3 linked regions of the Homo sapiens genome follow. The protein of the gene in region 1 interacts with the protein of each later gene in a biochemical or structural test. Each region holds a gene or a part of one and is shown in the gene's direction. Other genes may lie near its edges. The genes, in order: APBA3, LSM14A and RSBN1.

Region 1 (3,651 bases):
GCTGCCTGACGCGATTGTGATTAAGATGTTCTGGAATCACGGAGCAGAGAAGTCTGATTCTAGAGTGATAATAAGATTCTAAAACTCCTGACAGAATTGCTATGAGACCTGTCAGAGAGTTCTGGAATCAAGGGTCAGAACCAGCTGGGGTTCTGGAGAGTATGGGAATTTTAGACAGGCAGCAGGGTCTGTCTCTGTTCTGAGTGGTTCTACAACCCGGGAACAGAGCTGCCTGCTATCCTGGGCTGACTGCAGACGGTTCTAGAACAGTGGGCAGAGCTGGCCAGTTCTAGATTGATGGAGGGAATTCCAGAACCAAGAAGCAGGGGTCCACTGTGGTTCTAGAATGTTGTGGAGGTTTCGAAATTGGAGTGGGGGGTGGAGCGTCGTGGCTCACGCCTGTCATCCCAGTACTTTAGGAGGCCAAGGCGGGTGGATCACTTGAGGTCGGGAGTTTGAGACCAGCCTGGCCAACGTGGCGAAACCCCGTCTCTACTAAAAATACAAAAACTAGCCAGGCGTGGTGGTGGGCGCCTGTAATCCCAGCTACTCATGAGACTGAGGCAGGAGAATCGTTTGAACCCAGGAAGCGGAGGTTGCAGTGAGCTGAGATCACACCACCGAGCTCCAGCCTGGGCGACAGAGCGAGACCGTGTCTCAAAAAAGCAGGAGTGGGACTGTCTGGTTCCGGCCTGATCATGGAATTCTGGGGACACGGGGTGAAGGTATCTGTGGGTGCTAGATCTGGCTTTGAATCCAGCCATGGCCTGGACTCACTGGTTTCCCACCTGCGAGTCCTTGAGGGATGGACAGAAGGTTCTAGACCTGTGAGGGCCAGGCTGCTTGGATGGTTCTAGAACAGTGGGCTGTGCTTCCTGGCTGGAGAGTGCTAAGCCACCAGCTAGAACACTGTGTCTCCCGGCCATCTCGGAGAGCGTAGCCCTGGGGCAGAGCCTGTGGGAGTGGGCCCCTGGGGGCCGACCCTCTTCGCTGTCGCCCTCAGTGCCTGGTCCCTGTGACCATGAAGACCTCCTGGACGGTGTCATATTTGGGGCCAGGTACCTGGGGTCCACCCAGCTGGTGTCGGAACGGAACCCGCCCACCAGCACGCGCATGGCCCAGGCCCGGGAGGCCATGGACCGCGTCAAGGTGAGGGGGCGGCCGGGGCCGGGCGGGCAGGCGGGTGGGCTGCAGGCTGGGTCTGTGGGGGCCTCCACCTCCCACGCCGCCACCCACAGGCCCCCGATGGGGAGACCCAGCCCATGACGGAGGTGGACCTGTTCGTCTCCACCAAGAGGATCAAGGTCTTGACAGCGGACTCCCAGGTACGGGGCAGGGACCCGCCCCAGGGATGCGGGTGGGGTGATCGAGCCTGGCACGGCCCCCCAACCCACCCAGGCTGCCTCTCCCGCCCCAGGAGGCCATGATGGACCACGCCCTGCATACCATCTCCTACACAGCCGACATCGGCTGCGTGCTGGTGCTGATGGCGCGGCGGCGGCTGGCACGGAGGCCGGCACCCCAGGACCACGGCCGCCGCCTCTACAAGATGCTCTGCCACGTATTCTACGCGGAGGACGTGAGCAGCCAGGGCGCGGGGCCACCCTCCTGAGGCCCTCCTCACTGCAACTGTCGCCTCCCTCAGTGGGCCGTGCATTTAACCTCCCTCCCATAAGCTTATTTTTAAATTCTTTTTTTGGGACAAGGTCTCCTTCTGTCACCCAGGCTGGAGTGCAGTGGCGCAATCATAGTTCACTGCAGCCTCAACCTTCCAGGCTCAAGCGATCCTCCCACTTCAGCCTCTCTAGTAGCTGGGACCACCGGGGTATCACCATGCCTGGCTAATTTTTGTATTTTTTATAGAGACACGGTCTCGCTCTGTTGCCCAGGTGAACACGGTCTCAAACTCCTGGGCTCAAGCGATCCACCCACCTCAGCCTCCCAAAGTGCTGCAATTACAGGCGTGAGCCACCGCGTCCAGCCTCCTATAAGACTCCAAGACTCTCGGCCGACTCCCCGAAACCTTGCCCGCTCCTGGGCTGTCCCTGCCACCCATGAGGCCCCAGGCCCCCTGGCTGGGTCTTTGATAGCTTTTCCCACAGCCCATGCGCAGGGAGCTGCCTCCCTCATCGTCCCCCCAGCCCAGGGCTGCCCCTCCCCTTCCTTCTCCCCGTAGATTCCCCAAGATGCGGCTGTCTCTCCACCTCCCCCAAAGCCCCAGGGCAGAAGGCTGTGTCCTGGGACTCTCACCCCAGGTGGGGACAGGAGGGCTCAGCTCTGAGGACCCTGGGGACTTTGGGGACCTGGAGGAGGTGGGTGGGACACCCCAGGGACGCGCCACTCCTCCCCGCAGGCCCAGCTCATCGCCCAGGCCATTGGCCAGGCCTTCGCCGCCGCCTACAGCCAGTTCCTACGGGAAAGCGGTATTGACCCCAGCCAGGTGGGCGTGCACCCGAGCCCAGGCGCCTGCCACCTCCATAATGGGGACCTGGACCACTTCTCCAACAGTGACAACTGCCGGGAGGTGAGTGAGGTGCTGGGCAGCCCCCACCTGGTGCCCCCCACACCCGTGCACCTGCACCGGGCCCTGCTGAGCAGCCTCCGCGCCCCCTGTGTGTCCCAGGTGCACCTCGAGAAGCGGCGAGGGGAGGGCCTGGGCGTGGCCCTGGTGGAGTCGGGCTGGGGCTCCCTGCTGCCCACAGCCGTCATCGCCAACCTGCTGCACGGGGGGCCTGCTGAGCGCTCGGGGGCCCTCAGCATCGGGGACCGCCTGACCGCCATCAACGGGACCAGCCTGGTGGGGCTGCCCCTGGCTGCGTGCCAGGCCGCTGTCCGCGTGAGTTTCCTGGTGTGGCAGGGCCCCCACACTCCCAGGAAGGGGAGCTGAGTCCCAGAGAGGTCTCCTCCCTGGCCAGGTCTCTCCAGCCCAGCCAGGAGGGACAAAGTCGAACTTTTAAGTCCTGCCCACTGGTGTGCCCTTGGGGAAACTGAGGCCTGGAGAAGGGAGGCCACTTGTCCAGGGCACCTCCCTAGTACCAGAGCCAGGATGGAAATGCGGGTGGCCCAGCTCCAGGGCTGGGCCACTCTCTCTCTCTAACAAGAAACAGCTAATTTCTGGGGGGGTTTGTTTGTTTGAGACAAGGTCTCACTCTTGCCCAGGCTGGAGTGCAGCGGTGCACCTGGCTCATTGCAGCCTTGACCTTCTGGGCTCAAGCAAATCTCCTTCCTCAGCCTCCCGAGTAGCTGGGACCACAGGTGTGCACCACCACGCCCAGTTTATTGTTTTATTTTTTGTAGAGATGGAGTCTCACTATGTTGGTTGGCCAGGCTGGTCTTGAGCTCCTGGCCTCAAGTGATCCACCTGCCTCGGCCTCCCACAGTGCTGGGATTACAGGTGTGAGCCACTGCACCTGGCCATGTTTTTGAGTCTCAACCTTTGTTGCTCAGATGGGGAAACTGAGGCCCAGAGATAGGGAGGGACCTGCCCCCGTCAGAGGAATGAGGCCACAGTCCGTGCAGCCTCTTACAGATGTTTGCAGCCTGCCTGGAGAGCCCGGCTGTCGGCTTGGCTTTTGGCCATAAGGAAGCGATATGGCTCGGGTCAGACAGCTTCGACCCCATGCCCACCGGGCCCGAGTCTGTTCTCTATCA
Region 2 (3,651 bases), about 30 Mb from region 1:
AGTTTAAAGGAAGCCTCCATTCAGGGTGTAGGAAGAAATTACACAGTGGTGACATGTATGAATATTTTATGGAATAGTTCCAGTTGTGTTTGCACCTACGTCTATAAGTGAGTAGGATGCCTAAATAGGCTAAAATGAATGAAATTCTTATAAAAAATAAATTCTTACATTTAGTTAGCTTACCTGGATAATCATTCAAATGGAAACCAGGTTGCTACTGCACTGGGAAAAGAGACTTTATGAAGAACGATTATATAAGCCACTTGCCTTTAAAATAAGTTGTTCTTAAAATCAAGAGATTGGTGGAAGAATAGAAAAACAAGTAAATTGTTAACAGATTTCTTTAATCATCTGCTAAGTCTGGCTCATTGGCATAATTTATCTACTTCTTGATGTTAGTCACATAGTCATAAACTATTACCTTATTGGAGAGAGTGGAAGAGCTTTGTGTGATGGATAAAATACTTGCGGGGTGCTTTATTTGATTTCTTGCATTACTTGGGGATCTAAATCTAGCAATTCACAAAATTACTATCTAAAATGACAAAGATCTAGTGAAACTTCAAGCCACAGTTTCTTTTTGTTGCCCTATTTAGTGATGTTGCCAGTACTTGGAGCCTTGGAAACAGTTTATTATTGTTACATAGTCCGCAGAAATACTTGGTAATTCTGGGAGTCTGAAGTCAGGTGCCAGAAACTGTTCATTTTCTAGTAGGGGTAAGTAAGGTAAGCCATGATTTTCTAAGTCGGAAGTAAAGAAAACAGCATAAAACTGAAGAAAAAAAATAGTAGAAGGAAGGAAGTAGGAAGAAAAAAGAAATCTTATCTGTGCATGATACATAGCAGGAGTTTTGTATTTAACTCAGTGCCACAGTAATAATAGCAGTAACTACAGATAGTTTAACTTGAATTTAATTATTCCGTGCTAGAAGATGCTTGCTATAGAAACAATTTGTCTTTCTCTCATGATGCTATAAAATAATATATTAATTAGCTGTTTTAAAAACTAGATACCATTGAAGTAAATTTTGTTGTTGTTGTTTTGAGACAAGAGTCTCACTCTGTTGCCCAGGCTGGAGTGCAGTGGCACGATCACAGCCTTGACCTCCCTGGGCTCAGGTAATCCTCCTGCCTCAGCCTCCCAAGTAGCTGGGACCACAGGCACACACCACCACACCCAGCTAATTTTCTGTTTTTTGTAGATACAGGGTTTTGCCATGCTGCCCAGGTCGGTCTCTAACTCCTGGGCTCAAGTGATCTGCCTGCCTTGGCCTCCCAAAGTGCTGGGATTACAGGTGTGAGCCACAGTGTCTGGCTTGAAGTAAGTTTTTTAGTGGACAAAGTGTGAGTTGGTCTGTAAAATAATTTATTCCCAAGGGCCTTATTCTAGTTTTGTAGGGTTTTTTGTTTGTTTGTTTTTTTCTGGAAGAAAATGCGACCCAAAATGCCAGTTGGAATACTTAGCAGCTTTTTGGTCTTGGACAAGTTATTTAACCTTAGCTTTAACTTCTTCATCTTTTCAATAGGGATGGATAATAATGCCCATCTTTCAGAGTCATTCTGATAATTAAATGAGGTGATATAAAAGAAGTAACTAGTTTAATGTTGGTGCTTAATAGAGAATAGCTGTCCCATGTTATTTCCCACCACGATCTCCCTCTCTGTCTAGGTGCTCAGTCTCTCTAGTAGCCCAACTCAGTCAGTCATTCACACCTACTGTAGTCTACTGTCATCTTACTGCCTTTCACTGTCCTCTCATTCCCCTCATAACTTTACTTCCTTCTTTATCCTGCTTCAACTCCATGAGCAACCACGACAGTCAGTACACATTCCCTCAGCCCCCACCCCATTCCCCTCTTGCTGTCTTATACAAGAAATCACAACCCTGATTATATCAACACAGATGTGCTGACCAGCCTCACTCTAAATTTATGTTCGCTAGCCTCCGCAGTCATGGTCACTTCCTAGCAGTCACACTATACTTCCATAATCCATTTCACTTTTCTACATGGCTATTCCATTCATTTTCCTCAAGCCTCCAACACCTCCCCCATATTCACTTTCAGCCCCTTAACCGTGCTTTCTATAGCAGTTAACTGAGAAAAGAACAGCAAACGAAAGATAATTTTGATAAACTTACCCCTCACATACCCAGTTACCTGCATCTGTTCCCCAGACTTCTATGTTTTTTTCTGATCAATATGGATAAACTGTTCTTATTTCTGTCTAAGACCACCCTTCCACTTGTGCAGCATTTGTCCCCTCTTGGTGATTCAAGAACATTGCTCCAGCAGTTCTCTACTCTCCTCAGTTTTTCCTTCCCTAACGTATCTTTCTGTCTGCTTACAGATAGGCAGTTATTTCTTCTACCTTAAGAACAACCAAAAAACCCCACTGTACTTGAACTGAATTTCCTCTTTTCTAATGATTACCCCATTTCTATCCTTCCCTTTATAGCGAAACCCCTTGAAGAAGTTGTCTACACCACTGGTGTTCATTCATTTTTGAGCCCTGTTTACTAAGGTTTTTATTCCTACATATGAAGTTTTCTTATCAAAATTACCAAAGATTTCCATGTTACCAAATCCAGTAGTTAGTTCTTAGTCTCATTCTACTTCACCAGTCAGCATTACGTGGTACAGTTAGTCTGTTCTCTGTGAAGCATTTTCTTAACTTGATCGTATGCCATTTTTTTCCTCATATCTCACTGGTTACCTCTCAATCTCCTTGGCTGATTGAACCTGTAAGCCGCCAAATGTTGGGAGAGCTCCAGGGCTCAGTTATCTCCCCTTTTCTCTCTGTCTGTTAACATTTATTTAATCATCTGCATTCTTTTGATGATCTCATCCATCTAGTTCCTGGTTTCAAATACTACCTGTATATCACTGACTCCTATCTCTAGCCTGAATTTCTCCTCTGAACTCCTGACTTGTATATCCATTGCCTCTTTAACATCTCTACTTGTAGGGAAGTCTGCTAGAATCTCAATTCAGCATGCTCCAAACCTGTTCCTCCATCAGCCTTCCCCATCTAATCAAATGACAGCTCTATTCTAGTTGGTAAGACCAAAACACCTTGGAGCCATCCTTAATTCCTCTCTCTCTGTCTCACCTCATGTGATCCGAACCTATCAGCTCTGCTTTCAAACTAGATGCAGAATTTGACCTCTGACCACCCCTACTACCCTGGTCCATTATCTCTCACTAGTCTATTCAGAGATACTCAGATTCCTGTTTCTTGTTTCCAATATTGACCTCTCAGTTGATTCTTTCTCCTCCTCCCAATTTTACTTGAGTGAATCTTTGTAATTAAAAAATAAAATATATGGGAAATGTAGGTGACAAATTTTCTTAGTGAACCTATGTTTTCTTGTGCTTGACTGGTTGGTTGGCTATGTATTTCCAAATTAAGAGTCTTTTTTCTGTGGAACTTTGAAGTTACTGCTTTTTGTTCTTCTAATATTCTGGGGTTGCTGATGCCAGTCTGACTCTCAGTCACTTTTCTCTCTGGAAGCTTTTATTTAGAATTCTCTATTCCTGGAATTCACAAATGTGATCACACTGGTTTGTTGTTGTTTGTTTGTTTTTTGGTTTGGTTTGATTTTTCCTCTGAGTGTTTCTCTGTGGACCTTGTGAATCTGAAGAGTCAACT
Region 3 (3,651 bases), on another chromosome or scaffold:
TTTTTTGGTCAAATACATTTGAGAAAAACTGTGTACTGTAGCCTTCTACATATGTAACATGAATTGGCAAACTGGCATTTTAAAAGTTTTGAAAACCCTACAGAAAATAAACTGGTTTAACTTTGTTTAATCCAGGCTTTTGCACATAGTTTGACTGATATCTTTTTTGTCCTCTGAACATCTTTATTGTTACAGTGGTATGCAGGAGGCATGCCTCTGGTATTAATCTGAGTTTAAATCATGGCTCTAACACTTACTGTGTGAGCCTGAACAAATTGCTTTACCCTCTCTCAACTGCACTTTTCCTGTCTATAAAATGGGGTTGTGGTATTTCATTTATAAGGAACTTGTGTGGATTAAATAGGGCATTGTGTGAAAGTACTTACAGCAGTGCCTGGCTCATTGTAGGCACTTACTTAAAACCGGCCTTTATTATTTTATTATGCATGGTCCCTAAAACAACTCTAAGATTAATAAGGAGAGTGGGCAGATTCTTGTTACTTACAAAGCTATGTCCTTCCTTCGCTTATCCTCAGATTTTTGGAAACTATTTTAACTGTTTTTTTTTTTTAGATAATTAATGATTCACAGGAAATTGCAAACATAGTCAAGTCCTTACCTTTTACCAGTTTCCCTCAGTGGCTACATCTTACATAACTATTGTATAATATCAACACCAGGAAATTGACATTGGTACAATGTATATGTAGTTATATGCTATTTTATCATATGTAGATTAGTGTAACCACCACTACAATCAAGATACAGAACTGTTCCACCACCACAAACCCTTTACAGCCTTAGGCACTCCCTCTGTCTCTCTACTGTCCCTGTCCTCTGGCAGCCACTAACCTGTTTTGTCATTTTGAGACTATTATATAAGTTGAATCATACAGTATGTGATCTTTGGAGATTGCCCTTTTTCACTCAGTGTGATGTCCCTGAGATCCATCCCTCTTTTTCATTGCCGAATAGTGTTCCATGGTATGGATGTACCATGGTTCACCTATTGAATCATTCCCGTATAAGAAAGGACATTTTGATTATTTCTAGTTTTTGGCTATTATAGATAGAGCTTCTATGAAAATTGGTGTTCAGGTTTTTGTGTGCATGTAACTTTTCATTTCTTTGGTCGTATGGTAAATACAATTAGCCCTCTGTATCCATGGGTTCCACATCAATGGATTCAGCCAACCTGGGATTGAAAATATTTTCAAAAAAACATTGTCTGTACTGGACTTGTGCAGACTTTTTTTTTCTTGTCACTGTTCCCTAAACAATACAGTATAACAATTATTTATATAGCATGTACATTGTATTAGGTATAAATAATCTGGAGATGATTTAAAATATAGGGGAGGATGTGCATAGGTTATAAGCAATTATTATGCCATTTTATATGAAGGACTTGATCATCTTGGATTTTGTTGCCCTGGGAGGCTCTGGAACCAATCCTCCATGGATACCAAGGATGACTATATATATTTATTTTGTTTGTTTGTTTTTTAAGATACTGCCAAAGTATTTTCTGGAGTGTCGGTACCATTTTACATTCCTGTCAGCGGTGTAAGAGAAATCCATTTTCTCCACATTCTTGCCAGTATCTGGTATTGTCACTATTTTTATTTTAGCAATTTTAATAGACGTGTGGTGATACATCATCATGATCTTAATTTGCATTTCCCAAATGGCTAGTGATAATACACATCTTTTCATATCATCATTTGCTGTCTATATATCCTGGTCAGTAAAATGTCTCTTTATACCTTTTGCCTATTTTCTAATTGAATTTTGTGTGTGTGTGTGTGTGTGTGTGTGTATACATATACATATATATATATATATAATTTTTTTTTTTGAGACAGAATTTCACTCTTGTTGCCCAGGCTGGAGAGCAATGGTGCAATCTCGGCTCACTGCAACCTCTGCCTCCCGGGTTCAAGCGATTCTCCTGCCTCAGCCTCCCGAATCGCTGGGATTACAGGTGCCTGCCACCACACCCAGCTACTTTTTTATATTTTTAGTAGAGACGGGGTTTCACTGTGTTGGCCAGGCTGTTCTCGAACTCCTGACCTCAGGTGATCCACCCGCCTCAGCCTCCCAAAGTGCTGGGATTTCAGGCGTGAGCCACTGCGCCCGGCCCTTGAATTGTATATTTTTTATTACTGGGTTTTGATAATTTTTTGTAGATCACAGGTGCAGCTTCTTTGTATGGTTTGCACATATTTTCTCCCAATCTGTTGCTTGTCTTTCCATCCTTTTTGTTTGTTTGCTTGTTTTTATTTTGGTTGTTTTTTTTTTTTTTTGAGATGGATTCTCACTTTGTCACCCAGGCTGGAGTGTAGTAGCACGATCCTGGCTCACTGCAACCTCCACCTCTTGGGTTCAGGCGATTCTCCTATGTCAGCCTCCCGAGTAGCTGTGATTACAGGCATCTGCCACCATGCCCGGCTAATTTTTGTGTTTTTCAGTAGAGACGGGGTTTCGCCATATTGGTCAGGCTGGTCTTGAACTCCTGACCTCAGGTGATCCGCCCGCCTTGGTCTCCCAAAGTGCTGGGATTACAGGCATGAGCCACCACGCCCAGCCTGTTTGTTTTTGTTTTTTTGGGGAGGGTCTCACTCAGTTACCCAGGCTGCAGCACAGTGATGTGATCATGGCTCACTCTAGCCTCAACCTCTGGGGCTCAAGTGATCCTCCCACCTCAACCTCCTGAGTAGCTGAGACCACACGTGTGCACCACCACACCTGGCTAATGTTTTTTTTTTTTTTTTTTTTTTTGATAGAGGCAGGGTCTCTCTGTGTTGTCCAGGCTGGTCTCAAACTCCTGGGCTTAAGTGATCCTCCCGCCTTGGCCTACCAAAGTGTTGGGATTACAGACAGGAGCCACTGTGCCTGGTCCTTTCTACCTTCTCAGTGGGATACTTCACAGAGCAAAAATTTTAAATTTTGTTGATATCCAATTTACTAAGTTTTTTTTTTTCTTTAATGGATCATGTTTTTGGCATCATATCTAACATACCAAGTCCTAGATCCCAAAGATTTTCTCCTTTGTTTTCTTCTAAAAGTTTTATAATTTTAACTTTTGTATTTTAATCTGTCATCCATTTGAGTTAATTTTGTACAGGTGTGAGGTTTAGGTCGCCATTTTTTTTCTTCTTGCCTAAGGATATCCAGTTGCTCTAGCACCTTTTGTTGAAAAGATTAATCTTCCATTGAATTGCTTTTGCACTTTTTTCAAAAATCAGTACAACCTGTAATGTAACAATGATTTTTTTTTTTTTTTTGAGACAGAGTCTCGCTCTGTGCCAGGCTGGAGTGCAGTGGTGTGATCTCAGCTCAGTGCAACCTCCACCTCCTGGGTTCATGGGAATCTTATGCCTCAGCCTCCTGAGTAGCTGGGATTACAGGCGCCCACCACCACACCCAGCTAATTTTGTATTTTTAGTAGAGATGGGGTTTCACCATGTTGGCCAGACTGGTCTCAAACTCCTGACCTCAGGTGATGTGCCTCCCACAAGTGCTGGGATTACAGGCATGAGCCACTGTGCCTGGCCTAACAATGGTTTTTACAATTTAAAATAGTTGGAACGACCTTGTAGCGCATGGAAATCATACGAAATTTAAACTGTGTCCAGAAATAAAGCTTTA

The links.
Region 2: the proteins of APBA3 (region 1) and LSM14A interact in a test that uses a peptide from one of them, tested with the Homo sapiens proteins (one large-scale study listed by IntAct).
Region 3: the proteins of APBA3 (region 1) and RSBN1 interact in a test that uses a peptide from one of them, tested with the Homo sapiens proteins (one large-scale study listed by IntAct).

What each region holds. Positions count from the first base shown.
Region 1 is NC_000019.10:3,751,693-3,755,343, reverse strand, and holds part of APBA3 (amyloid-beta A4 precursor protein-binding family A member 3), read left to right. Parts: intron 1-1,003; coding exon 1,004-1,149; intron 1,150-1,238; coding exon 1,239-1,325; intron 1,326-1,417; coding exon 1,418-1,579; intron 1,580-2,353; coding exon 2,354-2,524; intron 2,525-2,623; coding exon 2,624-2,836; intron 2,837-3,651. UniProt on the Homo sapiens protein: May modulate processing of the amyloid-beta precursor protein (APP) and hence formation of APP-beta. May enhance the activity of HIF1A in macrophages by inhibiting the activity of HIF1AN.
Region 2 is NC_000019.10:34,178,902-34,182,552, forward strand, and holds part of LSM14A (protein LSM14 homolog A), read left to right. Parts: intron 1-3,651. UniProt on the Homo sapiens protein: Essential for formation of P-bodies, cytoplasmic structures that provide storage sites for translationally inactive mRNAs and protect them from degradation. Acts as a repressor of mRNA translation. May play a role in mitotic spindle assembly.
Region 3 is NC_000001.11:113,805,969-113,809,619, reverse strand, and holds part of RSBN1 (lysine-specific demethylase 9), read left to right. Parts: intron 1-3,651. UniProt on the Homo sapiens protein: Histone demethylase that specifically demethylates dimethylated 'Lys-20' of histone H4 (H4K20me2), thereby modulating chromosome architecture.